Linked DNA regions of Homo sapiens. The gene in region 1 interacts genetically with each later gene. Each region holds a gene or a part of one and is shown on either strand. Other genes may lie near its edges.

What was found. Genes that interact genetically often act in the same process or in processes that back each other up.
Region 2: changes in PRKCZ (region 1) and AMHR2 together harm fitness more than expected from each alone (negative genetic interaction), as found in Homo sapiens cells (one large-scale study listed by BioGRID).

The regions. Positions count from the first base shown.
Region 1 is NC_000001.11:2,055,824-2,061,277, forward strand, and holds part of PRKCZ (protein kinase C zeta type), read left to right. Parts: intron 1-660; coding exon 661-750; intron 751-3,717; coding exon 3,718-3,768; intron 3,769-5,454. UniProt on the Homo sapiens protein: Calcium- and diacylglycerol-independent serine/threonine-protein kinase that functions in phosphatidylinositol 3-kinase (PI3K) pathway and mitogen-activated protein (MAP) kinase cascade, and is involved in NF-kappa-B activation, mitogenic signaling, cell proliferation, cell polarity, inflammatory response and maintenance of long-term potentiation (LTP).
Region 2 is NC_000012.12:53,426,654-53,429,513, forward strand, and holds part of AMHR2 (anti-Muellerian hormone type-2 receptor isoform 1 precursor), read left to right. Parts: intron 1-1,223; coding exon of another isoform or gene 1,224-1,280; intron 1,281-2,242; coding exon 2,243-2,357; intron 2,358-2,799; coding exon 2,800-2,860. UniProt on the Homo sapiens protein: On ligand binding, forms a receptor complex consisting of two type II and two type I transmembrane serine/threonine kinases.

The DNA of each region.
Region 1 (5,454 bases):
GCAGGTCCTCACCTCTTCCTCTGACCTCCTTTCTCATGTCCTGGCCTTTTTCGGTAGGTGCTTCTGAAAGGATGGGCTCTTCATATTCTAGGGACCACGGGGAGGGCACAAGCAGCCAGGGCCTGCCGTGTCCACCTCCTGTCTCTTAGACACATCCTGAAAAACAAGGGGATTGGGAGACGTCCAGAGAGACCCCTTTCTCCCAGGGACTGGCGGGCAGCTCTTGGCCAAGGACACGGCCGTGCGGGTGGAGCCTGATAGCGCCCCCGTTGGGTTGGGTACAGCCCTGCAGGGCCTGGGTTCTGTACACCTCCATGTCCCTTTCCAGCCATAGAGGGCAAGGAGCTCTCCCTCCGCCCAGGACTGACCTCCGGAGAGTGTCCTCAGCCCCGCTCACTGCTTAGCCCTCCAAGTGGTGCCCAGGGCTGCAGGTGTACTGACTTCCCTTCCGGGGTGGCTCTGACGCTGCACCGGGGGCCAGGTGACTCCCTAGTGTGGACGGCCGTCCTTGGACCTCCCGACCCTGCCAGGAGGTGGCCAGTCTGAGCATCGGGACTTTGCCCCCCACCAGACCCTTGTCTGGTGTGCTGAGCGGGCTCGTCACAGCCCCCTTTGCCTCGGGCCTTCGGCGACGTCAGCACCGTCTCCTGCCCCACCCAGGTGACCCTTGCACGGTGTCCTCCCAGATGGAGCTGGAAGAGGCTTTCCGCCTGGCCCGTCAGTGCAGGGATGAAGGCCTCATCATTCATGGTTAGTGGCGGGGTCTGTGGTGGGCAGCTCTGGGGGGCTGTTCCTGGCTGTGGGTGTCTGCCGACTAGCTGGGGGATTTAAAATGGTTTAAAATCCTATGATGCCAGAGAATTTAGGGATGTCTAATATAATGCCATTTGGGTTTTTTTCTTTGACTTTTTTTTTTTTTTTTTGAGACGGAGTCTTGCTCTGTTGCCCAGGCTGGAGTGCAGTGGCACAATCTCAGCTCACTGCAAGCTCCGCCTCCTGGGTTCATGCCATTCTCCTGCCTCAGCCTCCCGAGTAGCTGGGACTACAGGCGCCCGCCACCACGCCCGGCTAATTTTTTGTATTTTTTGTAGAGACGGGGTTTCACCGTGTTAGCCAGGATGGTCTCAGTCTCCTGACCTCGTGATCTGCCTGCCTCAGCCTCCCAAAGTGCTGGGATTACAGATGTGAGCCACCGCGCCCGGCCTTTTCTTTGACATTTTATTAACCCAAATGAAAACTGCTCTTAACAAAGAACCCGTAAACCACTCAGAGGCTCCAGTGGCCAGCGTAGGGCCCGCGGCGCATGTGGACAGAGGGGACAGCCCCACCAGCCACCTCACCTGCCCGGTGCTCCCTAGGCCCGGCTCCAGGCTCACAGCTGTCCTCAGCTTTAAGTTCAAAGCCCCATGATGAGCTGACGCATGGGAGATGTGATTGTGATCATTTCCACTTTGTCTTTAGGTGGGCGTGGGCTCCTCCCCGGTACTGCTGGGGGTCTGCAGGGCGTCTGGGGCCTGGGAATGTGGTTCCAGCGCTGTGGCCAGCCGGTCACGTCTTTGTCTCTGTGTCCACTTCTGGCGTAGCTTGGGCTCCTTGCCAGGCGTCTGGCCATGGACGATTGAGTCCAAGATGGGACCAAAGCTCGAAACCACCCATGGATTTCTGACAGATCCATCATTCTCCTGGACACCGGGCTACCTGGTTACAACACTTAATTTTCTTCGCCCTTTATATCAATGAGGCTCTAAATTTAAAGACTAGGCCGGGTGCGGTGGCTCACAACTGTAATCCCAGCACTTTGGGAGGTCAAGGTGGGAGGATCGCTTCAGCCTAGGAGTTCAAGACCAACCTGGGCAACATAGTGAGACCCCCCCCTCTCCAAAACTTGTTTTATTTTTTTGAGACAGAGTCTGGCTCTGTCCCCAGGCTGGAGTGCAGTGGCACTATCTCTGTTCACTGCAACCTCCACCTCCCAGATATAAGCGATTGTCCTGCCTCAGCCTCCCGAGTAGCTGGGACTACAGGCATGTGCCACCACACTTGGCTAATTTTTTTTTTTTTTTAGTTGGAGTCTCGCTCTGTCGCCCAGGCTGGAGTGCAGTGACGCGATCTCAGCTCAATGCAACCTCCGCCTCCCGGGTTCAAGCAATTCTTCTGCCTCACCCTCCCAAGTAGCTGGGACTACAGGCATGTGTCATCACGCCTGGCTAATGTTTTGTATTTTTAGTAGAGACGGAGTTTCACCATGTTAGCCAAGATGGTCTCGATCTCCTGACCTCGTGATCCACCCGCCTCAGCCTCCCAAAGTGCTGGGATTACAGGCGTGAGCCACGGTGCCCGGCCTAATTTTTGTATTTTTAGTAGAGATGGGGTCTCGCCATGTTGGCCAGGCTGTTCTCAAACTCCTGACCTTAGGTGATCTGCCTGCCTCAGCTTCCTGAAGTGTTGGGATTACAGGCGTGAGCCACGGTGCCCGGCCCCAATTTTTTTTTTTTTTTTTTTTTTTGATATTCAGACGTGGTGGTGCACCTGTAGTCCCAGTTACTCGGGAGGCTGAGGTGGGAGGATTCCTTGAGCACAGGAGGTAGAGGCTACAGTGAACTGTGATTATTCCACTGCACTCTAGCCTGAGTGATGGGGCGAAACCCTGTGTCAGATAAATAAATTCATAGATGTGCCTAATCTAGTCCTTTTTATTGTGGTTGTGATAGTAAGCACATTTTGCCTCTCTATGTGGAAAGATACAGTGGCTTAAAAATTCACATTGTTTTCTAGATAAAAGAAAAATAGGGCTGGGTTCAGTGGCACACACTTGTAATCCCAGCACTTTGGGAGGCCGAGGCAGGTGGATCACTTGAGGTCAGGAGTTCAAGACCAGCCTGACCAACATGGTGAAACCCCATCTCTACTATAAATACAAAAATTAGCCGGGCGTGGTGGTGTACACTTGTAATCCCAGCTACTTGGGAGGCTGAGGCAGGAGAACTGCTGGAACCCGAGAGGTGGAGGTTGCAGTGAGCTGAGATTGTGCCACTGAGCTCCAGCCTGGGCACAGAGTGAGACTCCATCTGAAAAAAACCAACAAAAAACAAAAAATGTTTGTTTTTTTAAAGTTTCAATACTTTTATGTGTATACACACACACATAAAAAAGTAGAGATGGGGTTTCGTCATGTTGGCCAGGCTGGTCTTGAACTCCTGGCCTGAAGCCATCCTCTCATCTCGGCCTCCCAAAGTGCTGGGATTGCAGGCGTGAGCCATCATGTCCAGCCAAGTTTTAATACTTTCTAAGCACCTATTTTAATAATTTATTGTGGAAGCCCAGGATATATGTTAAAATAATTTTGAACTCTGTCTTGAGTATGAAGAAGTGGAATCTAAAGTGCTTTTAAAAGTCAGTGTTCAAAGTAATTGCATTTCTTTCCCATTTTTATATAGTTTAAAAATACAAATCAGTAGCTTCCTCTGATGGCTTTGCTGTCCAGGTCCCTCTGATTGCCTTTTACTCTAAGTTTTTCCGTGGGTTTTAAAGTCGGAGCCTGGCCTACGTAGACGCACGGGGTTTTGCGTCTCCCAGGAGCGGGCTCTCATTGGCAGTGCCACGTGCGCCTTGCGTGAAGTCCACGTGCTCAGCCTGACTGAGGCGGGACTTCCTCCGTGAGACTGTTGAGTGGCAGCCGCAGGGTCTTGACGCTGTCTCTTTCTCTCTCTTGTCCAGTTTTCCCGAGCACCCCTGAGCAGCCTGGCCTGCCATGTCCGGGAGAAGACAGTGAGTACTGGGGTTTCCTACGCCGGTCTCGCATGTTACGGGGTTGAACTGTTGATCCGTTGTGCCACGGAGGTGGCAGTGGTGCCGTTTTCGGAGGTTCACCCTCGTGGAGCGTCAGGGCAGGAGCAGCCGTGGTGACCGCAGGTGGGGTTTTCACTGCAGCTGCTGCCTGTGCGTGTTCTGGCTGACAGCACCACATGGCGGGGGACTCGCTTGGCTGGTTGGTAGCATGAGAAGTCCAGGGGTGCCCTGCCGTCTCCCTAGGAGGGAGGGGCCAGGTGGGAGGCTGGACACTGCTCCTTTGTGGCTGCCTCAGCTCACGACCACCCCTAGGCCAGTCGTCTGCTCCTCCTGGTCCCTGCTGGCCCCTGAGCTGGTGTGGGGGCTCCGTTCATCCCACACTGGCTCCATTGTTGGGAGAGGAAGGAGAGTGAGTCCCGGGGGCTGTGGCTTCAGAGGGAAGCTTCTGACCTCACTTCCTACTGCATCCCGGAGACTGTTGGGCCCTGAGCAGGTGGCTACGCTGCTCTCGGGCCGCGCATCCCATGGCTGTGCTTGGTGGGGTTCCACCCCCACTCTCCAGACCCCACACGGCCTCCAGCATCCGTGCCATGCCTTGTTCGTTGTGTGGGCAGGAGCTCCTGGACCGAGGCCGCTGCCTGTCCAGCGCAGGGCACGTGGCTCAGTGCCCTTCAGGCAGGGCTTCCCCCACCCCTGCTGCCAGGGCACACACCTCGCTGGCCTCAGGCTGGATGCTGGGTGTTGGCAGTGCCCTGTGTTGGGCGGGAACTGGGGGTGGGAGCAGATTCAGGCCAAGAGGGTGAGTGGGCAGTTGGGGCGAGAGTCTTGGCTTCCAGTGAGAAGTGGGGCTGAATAGAGGTTTGGCAGTGCTTAGCATAGGGGGCGAGAGTCTCGGCTTCCAGCGAGAAGTGGGGCTGAATAGAGGTTTGGCAGCGCTTAGCGTAGGGGAGGCCCCAGGAGCCATGGGATTTCCATGATCTGCCCGGGGAGAGGGCGGCGTGGCATCCCGGTTCCAGGCCCTCAGCCAACCGGGGTCCCTGCACCGTGGCCGGCAAGGCCGAGGAGCCATCCGGAGGTGGGCCCTGGCAGGAATGGAGCGGGTGGTCTGGGGCTGGACCTGCCGGCAGGAGGAGATGGGGTATGTCCGTGGCAGGCGGACACCACCAGGTGGTTTTGGCAGCGCAGGGCGAGTGTGAGGAGGCAGGGGGCGGGGAGGCTTTGGAGGCAGGTGGCCAGACGGTGGGCGTCAGGGCCCTGATCACCTACGCAGCTGCCCTGGTGGTGACCTTTCCCGGGACCCTCCCTCTGGGTGCCCACGCCTCACGGACCCTGGAGCACGCACCCTGGGAGGGCACGGTTCACTGCGTTTTTATAGATACATAAACACATAAATAGGACAGATACTCCCTGTGGGTGAGACGATGGTTGTCCCCTCCACAGCGCCCTGCAGCCTCATGCTGCTGCTTTATAGGAGGGGACCCACGGGCCGTGTTTATTTGCCACCTGGGTGATTTTTTGACTTGGTGACAGGACTGTGCTCCTCTGTCCCATGTGTGCTGAGACTGTGCACTCCCAGAGGTATCCACATGCGGCCAGTGTAGCCCCTGGGCGCGGGGGAAGCCCACCGTATTTCTCCGACATGTCTGCCTCTTGTCTCAACCCTGC
Region 2 (2,860 bases), on another chromosome or scaffold:
TTACATAAACAATACATGTTTATATATTTTTATTTTATTTTGGTGGGAGGACGGAGTCTTGCTCTGTTGCCCAGGCTGGAGTGCAGTGGCACAAGCTTGGCTCACTGCAACCTCAGCATCCCAGGTTCAAGCGATTCTCCTCCCTCAGCCTCCCCAGTAGCTGGGATTACAGGCGCTTGCCACCACGCCTGGCTAATTTTTGCATTTTTAGTAGAGACGGGGTTTCACCATGTTGGCCAGGCTGGTTTCAAAATCCTGACCTCAAGTGATCCACCCATCTTAGCCCCCCAAAGTGCTGGGATTACAGGTGTGAGACACCGTGCCCAGCCAAAAAAAAAAAAAAAAAAATTGTTAAAGAAATATCTTCAGGCACAGCCCTCCAAACTCATTCGTATTCATTCAACAAATAAGTATGAACTATATGTCAGGCACTATGCTAGAGGCCACAAAAAACACACAGTCCCTCTTTTACAGATTTTATAGACTAGCAGGGGAGACAGAAATGGATCAAGTAAACACGAGTGTCAAATGTCAAGTGTGCTAAGTGCTAGGAGAGAGGGCCAATGAACTATAAGAATAATAAGATGTGACTTGAAGGGGAGAGCAATGAGCAACAAGAAGAGGAAAAGGTAGGCAGAGGCCAGCCACACCAGGCCCTGTGGGCCTGTTAAATATTTGGGGCTTTTTAAGTTTTCATACCATTTCCCATCTGCTTCCTGCTAGGCATTACGCTACCCGCTTTTTATTTTATTTTATTTTATTTTATTTTTTAGACAGAGTCTCATTCTGTTGACTAGGCTAGAGTGCAGTGGCACAATCTTGGCTCACTGCAGCCTCTACCTCCTGGTTTCAAGCAATTCTGCCTCAGCCACCTGAGTAGCTGGGATTAAGGCGTGCCGCCACTACTCCTGGCTAATTTTTGTATTTTTAGTAGAGACGGGATTTCACCCTGTTGGCCAGGCTGGTCTCAAATTCCTGACCTCAAGTGATCTGCCTGCCTCGGCCTCCCAAAGTGCTGGAATTACAGGCGTGAGCCACCCCGCCCGGCCATGCTACACGCTTTAAACACATTTCCAAACTTACCCTTCACAAACACATTATGAGATAGGAATGATTATCCACATGGGGCTCAGAAAAGGAAAGTCATTTGCCCAGAATCTATGTGACTCTAGAGCTGGCTCCTCATCATCGTGTCTATTGCCTCCTGTTTACCCCTCCATCAGGACTGTGTGTGTCTCTGTCCACGTGGAAGAGCTCCCCACAACTCACTTTGCCCTATTGTAAGTAGTTCAACCTCCACCACCTGTTTCAGAGCCCAAATGCAGTGGCTCTTCCCTGAACTTTTTCAGCACCTACAGCTTCTGTACTTCTGAAATCTTGAATGATGGAAAGTCCCTTCTTTGACCATATACCTCCTGGCCCAGCTCAAAAATCACTGTTTTTTTGTTTGTTTAATTTCTCTGACTTCTCCAGGCAGGGTTAGTCATTCTTGCTTTATGCCCCTTGGCACTCGGTTAATTTTCCTATCTTGGGGTTTACTGCATTCTTTATCTCTTACCTTCCCTGAGCCATCTTGGTGCCTGAACACAGTTCGTGGCCACCGAAGGTGCTCGATGACACTTGTTGAATGAGGGGTTCTATTGCTCCCTTCCCTCCAATTCCCACTTGCCCTCCACCTGCTACTCTGTTATCTACTGGCTCTGCCCGTCTATGTGTACACATGCCTGACACCTCAGACAAGGTGACTCATGAAGGATGCCCCTGACTAGCTTGCCCTGCCTCCTCTGTTACTGTCTTTGCCGCATGTCTTCTGAGTCAGTATAAGGTGGTGGTTATTAGTAAGTGATCCTGAGTCAGACTGCTTGGATTCAAGCTCCACTCCTGCCTCACCGACTGACTTCAAGAGAGTTTCCTTAGTTCTGTAAGGAAAAGCTCTTCATCTGTTAAATGGGGGTGTGACAGGAGCACCTACCTTCTAGGGTTTTCACAAGGATTACAGGAGGCCACATCCACTGGGTCTGGACCACAGTAAGTGCCCAGTACCCTTGATCTAGAGTTACTATTTTTCATGTCAATTGATGCACAGTCTTACTCCTCTACCTATTGTCTTGGCCAGCATCCATCAGTGTGTCTGTCTGCTGGGGAGATGCAGGGAGAAGACTGTCAATTGATCTCTGCTCCCTGGGATGGATCAGCCGTCTCCAGCTTTGTGTACCATCCTTTTCTCTCTGCGTTTCCCCAGGGCTCCCTGTGCCACTACTTGACCCAGTACACCAGTGACTGGGGAAGTTCCCTGCGGATGGCACTGTCCCTGGCCCAGGGCCTGGCATTTCTCCATGAGGAGCGCTGGCAGAATGGTGGGTGAGCTGGGCATAGGAAGTCAAGGGAGCCACAGTGCTATGTTTGTGATTCTGCCTTAGTTTGGAGGGGAAAGATTGGGTCAAAAGAGGGAGGAAGAGCCGGGCACGGTGGCTCACGCCTATAATCCCAGCACTTTGGGAGGCCGAGGTGGGCGGATCACAAGGTCAGGAGATCGAGGCCATCCTGGCTAACATGGTGAAACCCTGTCTCTATTAAAAATACAAAATATTAGCCGGGCGTGGTGGCATGTGCCTGTAGTCCCAGCTACTCGGGAGGCTGAGGCAGGAGAATCACTTGAACCCGGGAGGCGGAGGTTGCAGTGAGCCGAGATCGCGACACTGCACTCCAGCCTGGGCGACAGAGCGAGACGCCGACTCAAAAAAAAAAAAAGAGGGAGGAAGAAAATCCATGTTCCTTCAACCTTGGATTCCCCCACAGGCCAATATAAACCAGGTATTGCCCACCGAGATCTGAGCAGCCAGAATGTGCTCATTCGGGA